5 linked regions of the Homo sapiens genome follow. The protein of the gene in region 1 interacts with the protein of each later gene in a pairwise test. Each region holds a gene or a part of one and is shown in the gene's direction. Other genes may lie near its edges. The genes, in order: RNF25, UBE2D4, UBE2U, UBE2E2 and UBE2L6.

Region 1 (2,826 bases):
AGATTCAGCCACTAAGGGGAATGAAACTTAAACAGGGAGTCAGGAAACCTGGCTCTGGGCCTAGTTCTACCTATGTTAAGCCTTGGTTAGTCATTTTACTTCTCTAGAATCCACTTCTTCATCTGTTGGCAGAAATGATGCCTAAAATTCTGATTTCCATGCCTTCTATTTGGCCAGTTGACAACTTAAGGTAACATATTCCTTGTTTTTAAGGAGTTTAGCAGGAGAATGCATTCTGGTAGATTGCCATTTTTCTACAAAGCCTGCCTTTATTGGCCTTAGCAGGCTTCCACAGGGAGAGCTGTAATGGTAAGTTAGTCTACTCCTGTCTCTCTAGGGTCCTTCCCTCTGAAGTTGAAGTATTGGAGTCCATCTATCTAGATGAACTACAGGTGATTAAAGGAAATGGCAGGTATGTATTCAACCAGTGGTGGGCAGGAGTCCCCCTAGTAATGAGGAGAGGTTCTATGCTGAATTTGGGTCTTAAGACATTGTGAGCCTTGATTCAGAGATAATATTTCTCTTGTGTAGACAAAAGCTATTCCTTTAATCCTACCCCAAAAGAAAGAGTCCAATGTGTACTTCCTTTGCCCACTTCACTGTCTCAGCCCCATCCTCCCCAGCCCCCAAGCCCCTACCCAGTCACATCTGCGTGTCCACTTGATCCACCTGCAGAACTTCACCATGGGAGATCTACATCACTTTGCATCCTGCCACTGCAGAGGACCAGGATTCACAGTATGTCTGCTTCACTCTGGTGCTTCAGGTCCCAGCAGAGGTGAAGCCCCTACTGTGTGGCAGCAAAGGGAGGAAGGGGAGAGTCCCTGGGGTGGACCGCTTCAGCAGTAACTTGTTATTTGCCCCCACTAGTATCCCCATGAGGTGCCACAGATCTCTATCCGAAATCCCCGAGGACTTTCAGATGAACAGATCCACACGTAAGTTGAACCTGTCAGAACAGGGAAAACTCAGCTACAGCTTTGCCCGGTGACAGAAATGGGCAGGTCTAATATTTGGTTTGCCCTCTTCCTCCAGGATCTTACAGGTGCTGGGCCACGTGGCCAAGGCTGGGCTGGGCACTGCCATGCTGTATGAACTCATTGAGGTAAGAGGTGCGCTAGTCTGAGATATGTTCTTTCCTTCAAGCTAGAGCAGTTTCTAGCTGTAAAAGGGAAACCATGGGCCTAGAATCTTAAACGGATCTGGAGTCATTAGGTAAGGCCTAAATTAATCCAGAGAAATGAGACTCTTCTATTTGAAAAACTTCCCAAAAGACAGTTCAGTAGCTTCTCCAAGTTGCCTATGCCAGCATCTTGACAGAAAATGACTTTTCCTCTTCACCTTGAATTTTTCTTGCATCAGTTTCAGTATATGTCTTGTTCTCTTGGCACTGGCAACTGAAAGTGGCAAAAGATACGCATCTTGCTTGGGGGCGTCTTAGCCATAAATGAACATTTGAAGGCTAGACTGCCATTGGACCTGACTAGAAAAAGTCATGGTTGGCCAGGCACGGTGGCGGGCATTTGTAATCCCAGTTACTTGGGAGGCTGAGGAAGGAGAATCGCTTGAACCCGGGAGGCGGAGATTGCAGGGAGCCAAGATCATGCACTGCACTCCAGCCTGGGCAACAGAGTGAGACTCCATCTCAAAAAAAAAAAAAAGAAAAAGTCATGGTTCCTTTACTGAAAGAGCTTATACACTGCTTGATGAAACAACCCACATGAAGCAACACCTGAAGCTCCAATATACACAGAAAACTTTTATTGTTTGAGATTAAAAATATAAAATTAAGTACAGTTTTATTTTCCCCTAGTTTGTTTATTTATTAATTTTAATTTTTTTTTTTTTTTTGAGACAGTCTTAGTCTGTCACCCAGGCTGGAGTGCAGTGGTGTGATCTCAGCTCACTGCAACCTCCGCCTCCCAGGTTCAAGTGATTCTCCTGCCTCAGCCTCCCAGATAGCTAGGATCACAGGCATGTGCCACCACACCCAGCTAATTTTATATTTTTAGTAGAGATGGGGTTTCTCCATGTTGGCCAGGCTGGTCTTGAACTCCTGACCTCAGGTTATCCACCTGCCTCAGCCTCCCAAAGTGCTGGGATTATAGGCATGAGCCACCACGCCCAGCCTCTCTTAGTTTAAATTTTTAAGAAAAATGTTCAGAATAGAATGAAGGTGGGTGGCTGAGAGTCAAAGAGAGTGGGTTTGATAGGCCACCGTAGCAGTCCTAGGTCAGGCCTCCACAATGCAGCCTTGGACTTTGTGGAATTCCAGAGTACACTATTAGCTATTCAAATAACAATTCAAATGCATAGTTCACAGCCCAACTCAATGCCTTGTGAATTCTCTGTCCATTTGGGTTGTCCATGCCTTGTCATGCTTTCTGAAAGCTGACTTAGAACAAACACATTGCCCCATGGGGGAGTGATATTGAAGGGGGCTAATCAAGAAAGGCCTCCCAGAAGATAAATTTTAATTGAACATTTTTTTTCTCAAGGTGTATTATTTTCATCTCCAAGATATATTAAAAGTGACTTAATGAAAGGAAAAACAATTAGGTTGAATTTTGAAACCAGGAAGATCAAATTTTGGGGGAGGGGCAGAGATGTGGAGAAGGATTGATTCCCAGCAGAGGGAGCGTCACCAAGCCAGAAATGCATAAACACAAGGTAACAAACTGGCCTGCTAGGAGCCAAGTCTAGCCAGTCACTCCTAGGAGTAGTAGACAGGCCTTGCTCACCGTTCTTCCCCCTACCCCCGTTTAATCAGTGTCTTCTCTCCTCAGAAAGGGAAGGAAATTCTCACAGATAACAACATCCCTCATG
Region 2 (3,521 bases), on another chromosome or scaffold:
CTTGCTGGAATGTGTGCCATCCAGTTCCCCTCCTGGGGGCAACAAATGTTAAAGTATATATATATATATATATATATATATATACACACACATATATATACACATATGTATGTGTGTATATATATAACATATATACACACATATATATACACATATGTATGTGTGTATATATATAACATATATACTTATATGTGTGTATATACATATACGTACATATATATGTGTGGGTGTATATATATATATATTCTACCTATTCATGTAATTGTAGTTAACATTTTTGTGGATTTCTTTTCAGTGCCTTTGATGTGTATGTGTTTCAGATTGTTGTCATGTAGTGCATCAAATTTTATACTCTGCTTTTTTCTTGCCCTTTTCCTCTAATGTTGTATCATGACATTTTCTCCTGTTATTCTGTAGTCTTTAAAAACTAATTTTCAGTGGCTGCATAATACTTGGTTTAGTTTCTCAAAAAAAAGTTTAGTTAACTTCTGATTATAAAGGTAGTAATTGTTCTTTAAAGAAACTTGGGGCTGGGCGTGGTGGCTCAGGCCTGTAATCCCAGCACTTTGGGAGGCTGAGGCAGGAGGATCGCTTGAGGTCAGGAGTTTGAGACCAGCCTGGCCAACATGGTGAAACTCATCTCTACTACAAATACAAAAATTAGCTGGGCATGGTGGTGCGTTCCTGTAATCAGTCCCAGCTACTCTGGAGGGTGAGACACCAGAATTGCTTGAACCCAGTAGGCAGAGGTTGCAGTGAGCCGAGATGGTGCCAGTGTACTCCAGTCTGGGCAACACAGTGAGACCCTGTCTCTAAAAATAAAAATAAAAAATAAAGAGAACTTGGAAATAAGATAATACCATATTCATCTACTTCAAGATGAATATTTTTTCAAATGTTCACGTCTCTGAAATTGGGATGCTTCTTACAATAGCTGTCAGCCAGGTTACCTTCACTTAGATGTCACTATCTGTATGAGTAAACCATCATGGCAGTTCATTATGAGGTAAGTGCATTGCTGGTACTATATTTGTTGAGTTTAATTGTTTTAAAAATATTTTCAAAAAGATAGTGTGATTTAGCACTGAAAAGAAAAGCTTTTGTGAACACAGGCACAGAAACAGGACAACGACGAGTAAATTTCATAATAAGGGAGCAAATATTTGTTGTTGGAGGAAGGACTGGAATTTCCTAATTCCATGTCAAGCAACCAAATTCTTCATAGCCACAGAAAGGAAGGTACCACCTACCCTCAAGTTGGTGAGACTGGGTCATTTTTTTTTTTCTGGAATACGTGCAAATAGATTGTGTATCATGGGCCTTTGCAGAATAAGTATTCATGGCTTGAAAGAAAACTCCAGGAAGAGTAGTAGAGGACTCTAAGAATTGCCACATTACCATTGTTTTGGAAGACACAGAGGATGATATTGTGTAGACATCAATGACTCAGTGTTGGGCTCTGAATGGGAAGAAACTTTAGGAATACCTGAACAAACCAGTTTATTTATTTCACTTGTTTTTCCTTTTTTTTTTTTTTGTATTCATGAATGATACTTAACAAGAAACACACAAAGCTATGTTTAAGCCTAAAATAATTCTTTTGATAAAAGTAATTTTAATTTTTTAATTTTTTGAAACAGAATCTCACTCTGTCACACAGGCGCAGTCTTGGCTCACTGCAACCTCCACCTCCCGGGCTAAAGCAATTCTTTTTTTTTTTTCCCACAAGAAGAAAAAGTACATTTTATTTAATGACCAAGTACACACACACATTCACACACATGCATATGTACATATAACTAAAAAAAATATTTTTTCTCATCACATGGGATGCATTGTGAAATATTCTACATTCTTTCATTTAAAGAAAAATGCTGGTCACGTTTTAGTAAAAATCTTTCACAAATCACTAATATGTTACAATGCATAACTGCTCTAGAGCATTAACAATGCTAAGCTATAATTTTAGGGAAATATATAGTGGTGCTCCTTCTTAGAATTAGCCCATGTGGTATTTTAGGTACTCAACTCAGGGAAAAAAAAAATGTAACATAGCCTTGTTACCATGTATTCAGCCTGGACATGGTACATGCTTTCAGTGAGCTTAAATCACCTATCTTCCTAGGCCCAAGATCTGAGGGAATGACTTCCAACTACGTAACAGGACCCTTTGTCTGTATTATACATTTTATATGTCTTTTTATGTACATTGTTTCACTTGTTCCTCACAACAACCCTGTGAGGTAGGGAGGGGAAAATATCAGTTACGCTTTATAGATAATGAAGTTAAGGTTCAGAGAGGTTAAGTGACTTTCTCAGTTACCTAGTAAAAGGCAGAGACAGAATAAGAACTATTAACTTTTAGGTTGGGGGCCCTTTTCTCTAAACCACATAGCTTTGGAGAGTATATTCTAACCCAAAATATTTTTACTGCTTCATCCTCATTTTCTTATTATTAATTCAACTTTTTACAGAATACCATAAAAGACCTAATTCTAAATTCATCATGCTAAATTTATGCTTCTCTGTAAACTTATGGCCACAGAATACATATTTTTTTTTTTGGAAAGCACTGTCACTTTGGCCCTAAAGGAACATAAGCAATATAAAGGGCCCCAGAGGCCAAGGAAATTGAAGAGAAGTCAGAAGAAGGGATATAAAATGGAATGTGTTAACGGATTTTAGTCCCTTTAAGTTTGCACTTTTGTGAGAGGGTTCAATGGAGAGCTTTAATGCAGATGAGACTTGAAGCTTTTGAAGAAGATCTAAGTCTTGATGAGGTTATTCAAACTCAGATCTTGAACGCATAATGATGATAGGCCATGGTCTTCAAAAACGTGGTACTTGATGCTCTCCCACAGTGCCAGGACTGGAATGTCACAATACATATAGATTCATGTTTTTGTCCATTAATGGTCTGTGGGTTTCTTTAAATGAAGCCCATTTTAGAGTCCATAGATATCAGTGTTCTGCGAAACTGTTGGGGATTGGAGGCTCCCAAAAGACCCCAGATGCTCTGCCCTGCCCATGGCATCACCCTCTAAAGCGATTCTTGTGCCTCAGCCTCCTGAGTAGCTGGTTATAGGCACATGCCACCAAGCCCAGCTAAGTTTTGTATTTGTAGTAGAGACAGGGTTTCACCATGTTGGCCAAACTGGTCTCGAACTCCTGACATCAGGCGATCTGCCTACCTCGGCCTCCCAAAGTGCTGGGATTACCGGCATGAACCACTGTACACAGCCTGATAAAAGTAATTTTTAAATACAATTAAAGTTTATGTGCAAAGAAAGCATTTGTGTTAGTTTATTTGCCAGCATGTTTTTTTTTTCCTAATTGTATGTAAAGTAAAATTGTGTCTTATAAAGGATGGAGTCTTGGAGTTGACGAAACACCGTAAAGGAATAACTGAGTGTGTACCATGGTTTGCTTAACTCTTCTCTACTACTATTCAATACTTTAACTTACTTTCTCTTTTTCGGAACTTCTCACTTTTATCATTGTTACTTGTAATAGTAATTACT
Region 3 (3,521 bases), on another chromosome or scaffold:
CCAGAGGAGTCGGTGCACTCTATGAATCAATTTACTTAAAAATAAAACTGTGGAAAGACTAAACCATAGGGAGAAACTCCAGTGTTAATCAGGTTACAGTTAATCAATAAACATGACACTTTAGTAAAAATGTTTATTTCTATATTATAGGTTTAGTCTTCCAACTGACAATACATTTTACATCGGAGTACAACTATGCTCCTCCAGTTGTGAAATTTATAACAATTCCGTTTCATCCAAATGGTAAGAACTAAATGACATTTTTATCATTAGAGGCTTTGTCCCTATTATCCTTGTTTCTTATAATAATCATGTTTCTTTTTAAGAACTTTATTATGATTCTAAAAGTAAGAACTCTCATTGGGGAAAATATGAAAAGGCTGGAAAAAATTAGCAATCACCTTAAATCCTAATGCAAAGAGAAAATACTGTCAACATTTTGCCAAATTTATTTTCCTTTTTTCTAAGTATGAATTTTTTCTATACAGTTGAGGTATTATGCATGAAGTTTTGCCTCTAGGTTTTTGATTTTATTTATTTTATGGTGTTTTTTTTGAGACAGAGTCTCTCTCTGTCGCCCAGGCTGGAATGCAGTGGTGTGATCTCGGCTCACTGCAACCTTCACCTCCCAGGTTCAATCGATTCTCCTGCCTCAGCCTCCCCAGTAGCTGGGACTACAGGCATGCGCCACCACACCTGGCTAGTTTTTGTATTTTTAGCAGAGATGGGGTTTCACCATGTTGGCCAAGCTGGTCTTGAACTCCTGACCATCCGCCCACTTTGGCCTCCCAAAATGCTGGGATTACAGCTGTGAACCACTGCGCCTGGCCTAGGTTTTTAATTTTAAAACTATATGTCTTTTTTCTGCATTATTAAACAGTCTTCAAAAGATCATCTTAAATGGTTCAACAATACACTTAACCATTTCTGTATTGTTCAATATTTTAGTTGGATCTAATTTTTCATTATTATAAAAAAACGATGCACTGGACAGATTAACTTTTTTTAAATAAAAGGTAAGTTAGATTGCTACTTAAAGTTATACACAAAACCAATTCCTGAAGGATCAAAAATCTAAAAATTTTAAATGCTGGAAAAGAAGGAAATCTAATAGAATTTTTATGGGCTTGGTGAGGAAGACGTTTCTCAGCATGATAAAACCCAGTAACTGTATGGAAAATATGACACATTAAACTGCAAAACCTGTTAAAACTTCTCTACGGCCCAGGACATTATACTCAGAGGTCAAAGACACTGACTTTTGCAAACTGAGGGAAAATATTTGCAATGCATGTAACAGAATATGTATACCATATGAAGAACACTTGTCAATCAATATAAAAAGAACATAAAGCAATTAAAAAATGGAGAAAGGCTATAAACAAACACTGGACAGAATAAACAACAAAAATAAACATAAAAAGATTATCAATCTCACTACTAAGAAAATAAAAGCAAATTAAAACAAAAAGTATTGTTATTTATCACATATTCATAAAATGTCAAAATATAACATACATATTTAGTAGGCATGGGCAGACATTGTTCCTCTGATATAATCATGACCTTTTGAGGAAGTAGTGTGACAGTTTCTAATCAGGTATAAAATGCATATATCCCTAAATTCCCGTAATACCATGTTTATAAACTATTCTGTAGAAATATTAGCACAAGTGTGCAAGAGTGTGTTATATTTAAAGACGTTTATTCCCACCAGGCTCAGTGGCTTATGCCTGTTATCCCAGTACTTTGGGTGGTCAGTGGGGAGTATTGCTTGGGTCCAGGAGTTTGACACCAGCCTGGGCAACATAGTGAGACCTGTCTCTACAGAAAATAAAAAAATTAGCTTGGCATGGTAGCATGTGCCTGTAGTCCCAGCTACTTCAGGTCTGAGGTAGGAGGATTGCTTGAGCCCAGGAGGTCGAGGCTGCAGTGAGCCATGATTGTGCCATTGCACTCCAGCCTGGGCAACAGAACAAGACGCTGTCTCAAAAAAAAAAAAAAAAAAAAAAAAAAAAAAAAAAAAAAAAAAAGATGTTTATTCCCAACAGCAATGTTAGAAATAGGAAAAATGGAAATAACTTCAATCTCCATTAACACAGGAATTTTAAGTGAAATATCCTACAGTTACGTGTATTGCTTCTAAACAGAACGAGGAAGGTCTACGAACCTTTTAGGTCTAGATCATTGCTATATCCTTAGAATCTTCACTGCGTGGCATATAGTAGGTATTCAGATATTTTTTGAATAAATATTTGTGTCCAGAAATATGTTGAAAATACATTGTTAAGTGAAAAAATACATTGAACAATAAAATGTAAAATATATTCCCATTTAATAAACACACACATATGGGTGTGTATACATATATGTGTTTGTGTGTATATTTGTATAGACCAACTGGTAATATTGGTCTTGAATAGTAGAATTAGTAGGCAGGGGAACATTCATATTTTACATTAGATTTTTTATGTTTTTTTCCCAAGTACATTATTTTATTGTAATTAAAACCTATTTTTGGTATCTATAACACAAAATTAATTACATACGTGTGCCTTTATTTGTTTAAAATAGTTAGAATTATTGGATTAAATTCAATGGGGGGAGGTACTCTTATCCCCTAGTCCTCATCCCTCCCACTTCCATAAAGTAGAGGGAACTTTAGTCTCTAGGAGGGGGAAGGTATAGGAAAACTTGTGACTGCTCTTTTTTTTTCCCCCATCACTCCTCCTAGAAGTCACTTATCTGATTAGGGAGATGAAGGAAAGAATTGAGCATATGTGGCCCAGAACTTGCTCAACACTCTCTCCTTCTGACCATACTGGGTATAGTCTCTTTTGCTCCAGGCAGGAAACTTAGGCAGGCCTTCGGTTTGGGAGTTAAGTTTAAATCAGGGGGACTTTTGTGGAGCCTGATTAAAGCCATTCATCAAGTGCGTTCTCCATTTCAGTCTTATGTGCAATGAAGCTGATGTTTTTACTTCCACCTTTCAATACTTTGATCTATTTTATAATTACATATGAACTTGAGGGGAGAGAAGGGTTATTTACTAGCTTTCAACCCCCGCCCCCGCCCGCCCCGCAAAAGATGGCTATGTACAGTTTTAAGTCTTTATATAAAAAGCCAAATTGCCTTTCGGTGGTATTTGTACTCCTACCAAAAAGTACATATAAAGTTCTTATTTTAGCACCTTCCAATTCTGGCCATTGAAACTTTGAAGAAAATTTTTTTGCCAATTTGGTAAGAGTCTTGCTATTATTTTAATAAGCACTTCTTTGAATACTTGAGAAGTAAACATTTCCCACCTTTGTTGATTCTTATTTTGTGACTCGTATGATACAATTGACAGTGCTATCACATTGTCCTAGATGTTGCAAATATTTCCTCTAATTTGTCATTAATTTTCAACTTTGTTTATGCTGTTTTTTCACATCTGGGATTTAGAGATTTTTATGATTTAAAATAAATTTATATTTAAGATCTATTAATCTTGTCCTTTGAGGCTTTTGCAGTTGTCTTTC
Region 4 (3,521 bases), on another chromosome or scaffold:
AGCACTTTGGGAGGCCAAGGCAGGCGGATGACTTGAGGTCAGGAGTTCAAGACCAGCCTGGCCAACATGGCAAAACCCTGTCTCTACTAAAAATACAAAAATTAGCTGGGTGTGGTGGCGGGCACCTCTAATCCCAGCTACTTGGGAGGCTGAGGCAGGACAATCGCTTGAACCCGGGAGGTGGAGGTTGCAGTGAGCAAAGATCACGCCACTGCACTCCAGCCTGGGCAACAGAGCGAAACTCTATCTCAAAAAAAAAAAAAAAGAAAAAAAAACTGTTATAGAATAATATTTATTTTCTTTGTATTAGTACTCTCATGCTTTTTGGTGTTTGAATATTATAAATGTACAAAATCCTTAAAATAACTGGAATCTAACAAAAGTTTTCTTTGAAATTTTTTAGAAGTCAGAGTCAGTTTCTCCCCATGAACATTCCTGTAGTTGTATCAAAAGTAAATTCAGTCCCTAAAACATTTGTTAAATAACAGGACTCTTTATAAGAAGCAGAATGTCATGGTTTTGCTGTTGATGTTTATTTCTCTGTGCCCAAAATGACAAATTCTAAAATGATGATCTCTGTTGATTAATCTCATGTGCCCAAGAAAAAAATCAAGTGTATGTTAACCAATAGCCTGGGCTATTTTGTCTGATAAAATAGGCAATTTTATTAGACAAAAATTGTCTATAGATACTGTTAATAAACACTTTGTCTAACAAAATATAACTTTACATTTTCTTGTAGGTTACCTTCCGAACAAGAATCTATCACTGTAATATTAACAGCCAAGGTGTGATCTGTCTGGACATCTTAAAGGACAACTGGAGTCCGGCTTTAACTATTTCTAAAGTTCTCCTCTCCATCTGCTCACTTCTTACAGATTGCAACCCTGGTAAGAGACTTTAAATCTAGTATGAATTGGAGCTTGTCAAGATTTAAATGTCAGACCCTTAGTAACTTGTTTACTACTGCTACTACCACTACCACCACTGCTTCTACTACTATTATTGTTAAATTTTCATAGTATGTAACTATTTTCTTTTTAAATTGGGTCTTCTCATTAGTGTTTTTAAGACCTATCATTTGCCAAAAAGGAAAAAGTATAGTGTGGTAAAAAAAATAATGAAAAATCATTTTAGATGGGAAAGTACGTTTAAAGAATGAATTAAGTTATCCTGCCAAATAATAATAAAAATTCAAGTTGAATAGCTTAATCTTTAATTAGATGCCTACTAGAAGATGTTAATTTGAGGAATGTGGGCTATTAAAATCTGATAACAACCAGGCAGCACCATGCAGACGTGACCTTTTTGGCATCCTAGTAACTGTGCATCCTGACAAGCTATTATAACGGTCCTGAATGGTCTGTTCTAGGAAATACCCCAAAAGTAAACAAGGAAATACACCTCCCAAGAAAACGAAAAAGTCTATAGCCAGGCCTTTATGGCTTGCTGGTGTGCTTACCACTGAAAATTCTTAATTCCTGGGCCATGTCTTTACAAATTGGGTTTATTTTAGAAAATACAAAAATCCAAAGATAGCTATAGGGTTTTCATTGATGTTCTCAGTGGGAGAATTATTTTATGAGTAATTAATAGCTTAAATATTGCATGAGATTCCCTCTTCTACAATCATGAGTAAACTCTGTTCACTGGATACATGAAATTTTACACAAATGGAAATGACGAGTATCAGTGGGGTTGCTTAGGATCCTGGCTGTTTTATAAAACATCAAGAAATAACAGTCTTTCTACTTTTATATTTCTTTATTTTTCAGCAGTAAAATCTTTTTTAAAGTAGCAAATTAGTATTTTTTTTTTTTTTTTTTTTTTGAAACTGAGTCTCACTGTGTCACCCAGGCTGGAGTGCAGTGGCACGATCTTGGCTCCCGCAACCTCCGCCTCCTGGATTCAAGCGATTCTCCTATCTTAGCCCCCCAAGTAGCTGGGATTACAGCCGTGTGCCGCCAAGCCCAGCTTATTTTTGTACTTTTAGTAGAGACGGGGTTTCACCGTGTTGGCCAGCCAGGTCTCGAACTCCTGACCTTGTGATCCGCCCGCTTTGGCCCCCCAAAGTGCTGGGATTACAGGCATGAGCCACTGTACCCAGCCTGCCCAAAAAATAAAATTGTGCAGGATCATTATAAAATATTTTTTGAATTAATTCATACTTTACTACAGACAGTAAAGTCCAATAATGTTATACTAATTTAAAGTTAATTTTGTTCTTTCAGTCCTGTTGTTCCCATTTTAATCCCATTTGTCTGTGACTGTGTATAACCTTGTATAACCTCATTTGGAGGTAATGTTGCAAGAAGGCTTTTTTTTTTTTTTTTTTTTTGAGGTGATTTCGAAGCCTGGCCTGCTTTGCCTCCAAGTCAGCTGAAATGGAATCTGTTACCCTGAATAAGCCTGTATATGACAGCCTGTTCTCTCTACAGATATTCCTGCTTAAAGGAATAGATTCATTCCACCAAAGCCTTCTCTCAGCAATCAAAAAGACTTCTGTTCAGTGAACTAGTTTTTTTTTTTTGCTCCGTTTCAGAAAATTACAAATGCATTCTGCAAAAACTTAAAAATCACTCCTAACTAAAGCAGAACCACATAAGTAAAAGAAATAGATTTTGAAATAATGCTATTGATAGTAAGAACAAGCCTAAAAATAATGTTCCATAAAACCAAAGACAGCCTGCCTCATATGAGACTAGAAGAGAATTTGTAAAATACATGCTAACATTTAGTTTATCACACTTTTTAACACATAAAAATAAAGTTTCCTAATTGGTTTTTATGAATGTTGACACTTCTAGAATCTTAAATAGAGTTGTTTATTTTAAAGTAGTCAAATGTCCATTCTTTTGCTTAATGGACTTATTTCACACTGTTATCTGGTACACTTTCAATCTCTGTAGGTTTTTTTACCTACAGAGGTAGGAAAGATTAGGTTAGATTGAAGTTTATCTTAAATCTATCTTCAAATTATCACAAAAACAAGTTTGATAGAATAGGAATAAATAAGATTTTCCTACACTGAATCTGTAGAGCTATTTTAACCCGGAAATGCTGTCACCTCAAAAATAGGCCTTGTATAATGATACAAATTTAACTCACTTAAAAAATACTTTCTCACTCTTATCCATACATAAACTTATTTTCTAAATCTTTTTCATACTCTTTTTGTAATTTGCACTTGTCTCTTTAAAGAATTTTTGGTCCATTCCAACACAGATGTTCTTTAGGGTATGACTACCCATCCTTATCAGCATGATATTTGTAGACAGCAGATGTAGATTTGAAAACCAGTTTAATTGTTTATTAGTCATATCACATTGGATGGGTCACTTAACTTTCCACAGGCTTAGTTTTTGATATAAAATTGGGATTAGTACCAGCCCTGCCTAAATCACTGGATTCCTCTGAGGTTAAAATGAGATGGTATATGTGAAAGCCATTTATAAATGGTAATGTGTTGTTGATATTGTTACCCAGAGTATTTGGGACACCAAATGGGCCCACAATAGGTG
Region 5 (3,521 bases), on another chromosome or scaffold:
CAGGCACCCGCCACCACGCCCAGCTAATTTTTGTATTTTTAGTAGAGATGTGGTTTCACCATGTTAGCCAGGCTGGTCTCGAACTCCTGACCTCAGGTGATCCACCGGCTTTGGCCTCCCACAGTGCTGGGATTACAGGCGTGAGCCACCATGCCCAGCCCAGATGATTTTTTATTGCTCATTAAAATTTTTTTAAATTTCTGATTGAAGAACTCCTTTTTAGCATTTCTTGTAGGACAGGTCTGGTGTCGATGGTATCTCTCAGCTTTTGTTTGTCTGGGAAAGTCTTTATTTCTCCTTCATGTTTGAAGGATATTTTCACTGGATATACTATTCTAGGGTAAAAGATTTTTTCCCTCAGCCGTATTTCATTTAAATATGTCATGCCACTCTCTCTTGGCCTGTAAGATTTCCACTGAAAAGTCGCTGCTGGACATATTGGAGCTCCATTGTATGTTATGTGTTTATTTTCTCTTGCTGCTGTTAGGACCCTTTCTTTAATCCCTGACATCTGGGAGATTGATTATTAAATGCCTTGAGGTAGTCTTCTTTGGGTTAAGTCTGCTTGGTGTTCTATAACCTTCTCATGTTTGGATATTGATATCTTTCTCTAGATTTGGGAAATTCTCTGCTACTATCCGTTTGAATAAACTTTCTAGCCCTGTCTCTCTCCCTACCTCCTATTTAAGGCCAGTAACTCTTAGATTTGCCCTTTTGAGGCCATTGTCTAGATCCTGTAGGCATACTTCATTCTTTGTTTATTCTTTTTTTTTATTTTTGAGACGGAGTCTCGCTCTGTTGCCCAGGATGGAGTGCAGTGGCACAATCTTGGCTCACTGCAAGCTCTGCCTCCTGGGTTCATACCATTCTCCTGCCTCAACCTCCTGAGTAGCTGGGACTACAGGCGCCCACCACCACGCCCGGCTAATTTTTTTTTTTTTTTTTGTATTTTTAGTAGAGATGAGGTTTCACCGTGTTAGCCAGGATGGTCTCGATCTCCTGATCTCGTGATCCACCTGCCTCGGCCTCCCAAAGTCTTTGTTTATTCTTTTATTATTTTGCTTCATCTGACTGTATTTTCAAATACCCTGTCTTTAAACACTCTAGTTCTTCTGCTTGATCAATTCTGCTGTTAAAAGACTGATGCGTTTCAGTATGTTAATTGCATTTTTTTCTTTCTTTCTTTTTTTTTTTTTTTTGAGACAGAGTTCCACTCTTGTTGCCCAGGCTGGAGTGCAATGGCATGCTCTCGGCTCACTGCAACCTCTGCCTCTCCAATTCTCCTGCCTGAGCCTCCCAAGTAGCTGGGATTACAGGCCTGCACCACCATGCCCAGCTAATTTTTGTATTTTTAGTAGAAACAGGGCCTCACCACGTTGGCCAGGCTGGTCTTGCACTCCTAACCTCAGGTGATCTGACTGCCTCGGCCTCCCAAAGTGCTGGGATTACAGGCATGAGCCACTGCACCCGGCCTCAATTGCATTTTTCGACTCCGGAATTTCTCCTTGATTCTTTTTAATTATTTCAATTTATTTGTTAAATTTGTTGATGGGATTCTGAATTCCTTCTCTGTGGAGGAAATATTGAATTTCTTTGAGTTTCCTCAAAACAGCTATTTTGATTTCTCTGTCTGAAAGGTCACATATCTCTGTTTCTCTGGAATTGGCCCTGTGTGCCTTATTTAGTTCGTTTGGTGAGGCTGTGTTTTCCTGGATCGTCTTGAAGCTTGTGGATGTTTGTTGGTGTCTGGGCACTAAGGAGTTAGGTATTTATTATAGTCTTTGTAGTCTGGGCTTGTTTGTACTCATCCTTCTTGGGAAGGCTTTCGAGGTATTGGAAGGGGCTTGGCTGTTGTGATCTAAGTTTTGGTCACTGCAGCCATGTCTACATAAGGGGGCACTCCAAGCCTAGTAACACTGTAGTTCTTGCAGACTTTTAGAGGTTACTACCTTTGTGGTTTTGGATAACATCAGGAAGAATTCTCTGGATTACCAGGTAGAGACTCTCATTTTCTTCCCTTACTTTCTCCCAAACAAATGGAGTCTTACTCTCCGTGCTGAGCTCCCTGGAGCTGGGTGAGGTGTGACACAAGCATCCCCATGGTCACCAGAATTGGGACTGCACTGGGTCAGGCCTGAAGCCAGCACAAGACTGGGTTTTGCTCAAGGCCCGCTGTAATCACTACCTGGCTATGCCCTACGTTCGCTCAAGGCCCTAGGGCTCTGCAATCAGCAGGTGGTGAAGCCAGCCAGGCTTGTGTTCTTCCCCTTAGGGTGGTTAGTTCACTGCTGGGCCCCAGAGAGGTCCACAGTTGCTGTCCATGGGCCAGGGCCTGGAGTCGGAAACCTTAGAAATCTCTCTAGTGCTCTGTGCTACTGCAGCTAAGCTGGCACTGAAACCACAGGACACAGTCCTTCCCACTCTTCCCTCCCTTTTCCCCAGATATAGGAGTCTCTCCCCTTGTCCACCACCACCACGGGTCTATGAGGAGTACTGCCAGGGTACTACTGCTGATGTTCGCCTAAGGCCCAAAGGCCCTTCAGTCAGCTTGTGGTGAATGTGACCAGGCCTGAGACTCACCCTGCAGGGCAGCGGTCTCCCCTCTTGTTCGGCCAGATAATTCTTTGTTAGGATGTTTATCAGCATCTCTGGCCTCTATCCACTCTCCCGATTTATGACAACGGAACAATGTTCCCAGATATTACCGAATGTCCCTGGCTGGGTAAAATCGCCCCTGGTTGAGAACCACTGGTTTGTACCAATTCATTGTTCCAGAGAAATGTGACCTGCCCTTGAGTGTCTTTATCTTCCCCAACAAGAAAAGGCCTGTAGTCCCACAAGATGGACTCTAAAAGAGGGGCAGCATTCCTTTGTCAAATACATTTGAGAAGTACTGCATGCTGTGGGCCCACAGCTTGGTCAATCACCATACACAATAGCATATTAAAGGCTGTGGGAAGTTCTCCAGTGAAGAAACCTCTTTAGCCGAGATTTACCAAATGTACTTGACCTTGGAACCCTTTTCCTGTACTACCTATTAACCTTCTGCAGGACATACTGTACTTATGTTTCCCATCTGGGCCCTCTGCCCTGGTGCTTCTCCCCTTCTCTGCTTTATGGATTCCTGTTCATTCTGCATGGCCCAGCTCACAGAGTGCACCCTCTGTGAAACCTTCCTTCTCCCCTCTCATCTCCTTCCTTACCGTATATCCATACACATTCACATAATCACATCCATGTTTCGTCCATTACTCTATTGAAATTCTTGAGGACTGGGTCCTGTCTCAGTTAAATGTCAGTAGAAGATGCTCAGTAATGGCTGTTGGGAGAATTCAGAAGGGATATTCAGGTGTTTGGGCCACAGTTTTGGGAAGATGAGTCACTCCTTGCCCCCTTGTTTCCCCACTTGGTGTGTAGAGTTCTTCTCTGCTATGGTCTTCCGGAGTCATTTCCCTTCTCCAGCCCTGATCTGGCAGAGTTTGAAGCGGTGGGGTCATGTCTTTGCTGCAGATGCTCAGTCG

The links.
Region 2: the proteins of RNF25 (region 1) and UBE2D4 interact in binary tests that used the Homo sapiens proteins (3 or more experiments, as listed by UniProt).
Region 3: the proteins of RNF25 (region 1) and UBE2U interact in a two-hybrid assay, tested with the Homo sapiens proteins (one large-scale study listed by BioGRID and IntAct).
Region 4: the proteins of RNF25 (region 1) and UBE2E2 interact in binary tests that used the Homo sapiens proteins (3 or more experiments, as listed by UniProt).
Region 5: the proteins of RNF25 (region 1) and UBE2L6 interact in a two-hybrid assay, tested with the Homo sapiens proteins (one large-scale study listed by BioGRID and IntAct).

The regions. Positions count from the first base shown.
Region 1 is NC_000002.12:218,666,191-218,669,016, reverse strand, and holds part of RNF25 (E3 ubiquitin-protein ligase RNF25), read left to right. Parts: intron 1-337; coding exon 338-412; intron 413-675; coding exon 676-778; intron 779-870; coding exon 871-938; intron 939-1,035; coding exon 1,036-1,105; intron 1,106-2,786; coding exon 2,787-2,826. UniProt on the Homo sapiens protein: E3 ubiquitin-protein ligase that plays a key role in the RNF14-RNF25 translation quality control pathway, a pathway that takes place when a ribosome has stalled during translation, and which promotes ubiquitination and degradation of translation factors on stalled ribosomes.
Region 2 is NC_000007.14:43,932,931-43,936,451, forward strand, and holds part of UBE2D4 (ubiquitin-conjugating enzyme E2 D4), read left to right. Parts: intron 1-3,521. UniProt on the Homo sapiens protein: Accepts ubiquitin from the E1 complex and catalyzes its covalent attachment to other proteins. In vitro able to promote polyubiquitination using all 7 ubiquitin Lys residues, but may prefer 'Lys-11' and 'Lys-48'-linked polyubiquitination.
Region 3 is NC_000001.11:64,206,614-64,210,134, forward strand, and holds part of UBE2U (ubiquitin-conjugating enzyme E2 U), read left to right. Parts: intron 1-150; coding exon 151-243; intron 244-3,521. UniProt on the Homo sapiens protein: Catalyzes the covalent attachment of ubiquitin to other proteins.
Region 4 is NC_000003.12:23,531,812-23,535,332, forward strand, and holds part of UBE2E2 (ubiquitin-conjugating enzyme E2 E2), read left to right. Parts: intron 1-742; coding exon 743-890; intron 891-2,341; coding exon of another isoform or gene 2,342-2,403; exon of another isoform or gene 2,404-3,521.
Region 5 is NC_000011.10:57,561,160-57,564,680, reverse strand, and holds part of UBE2L6 (ubiquitin/ISG15-conjugating enzyme E2 L6), read left to right. Parts: intron 1-3,521. UniProt on the Homo sapiens protein: Catalyzes the covalent attachment of ubiquitin or ISG15 to other proteins. Functions in the E6/E6-AP-induced ubiquitination of p53/TP53. Promotes ubiquitination and subsequent proteasomal degradation of FLT3.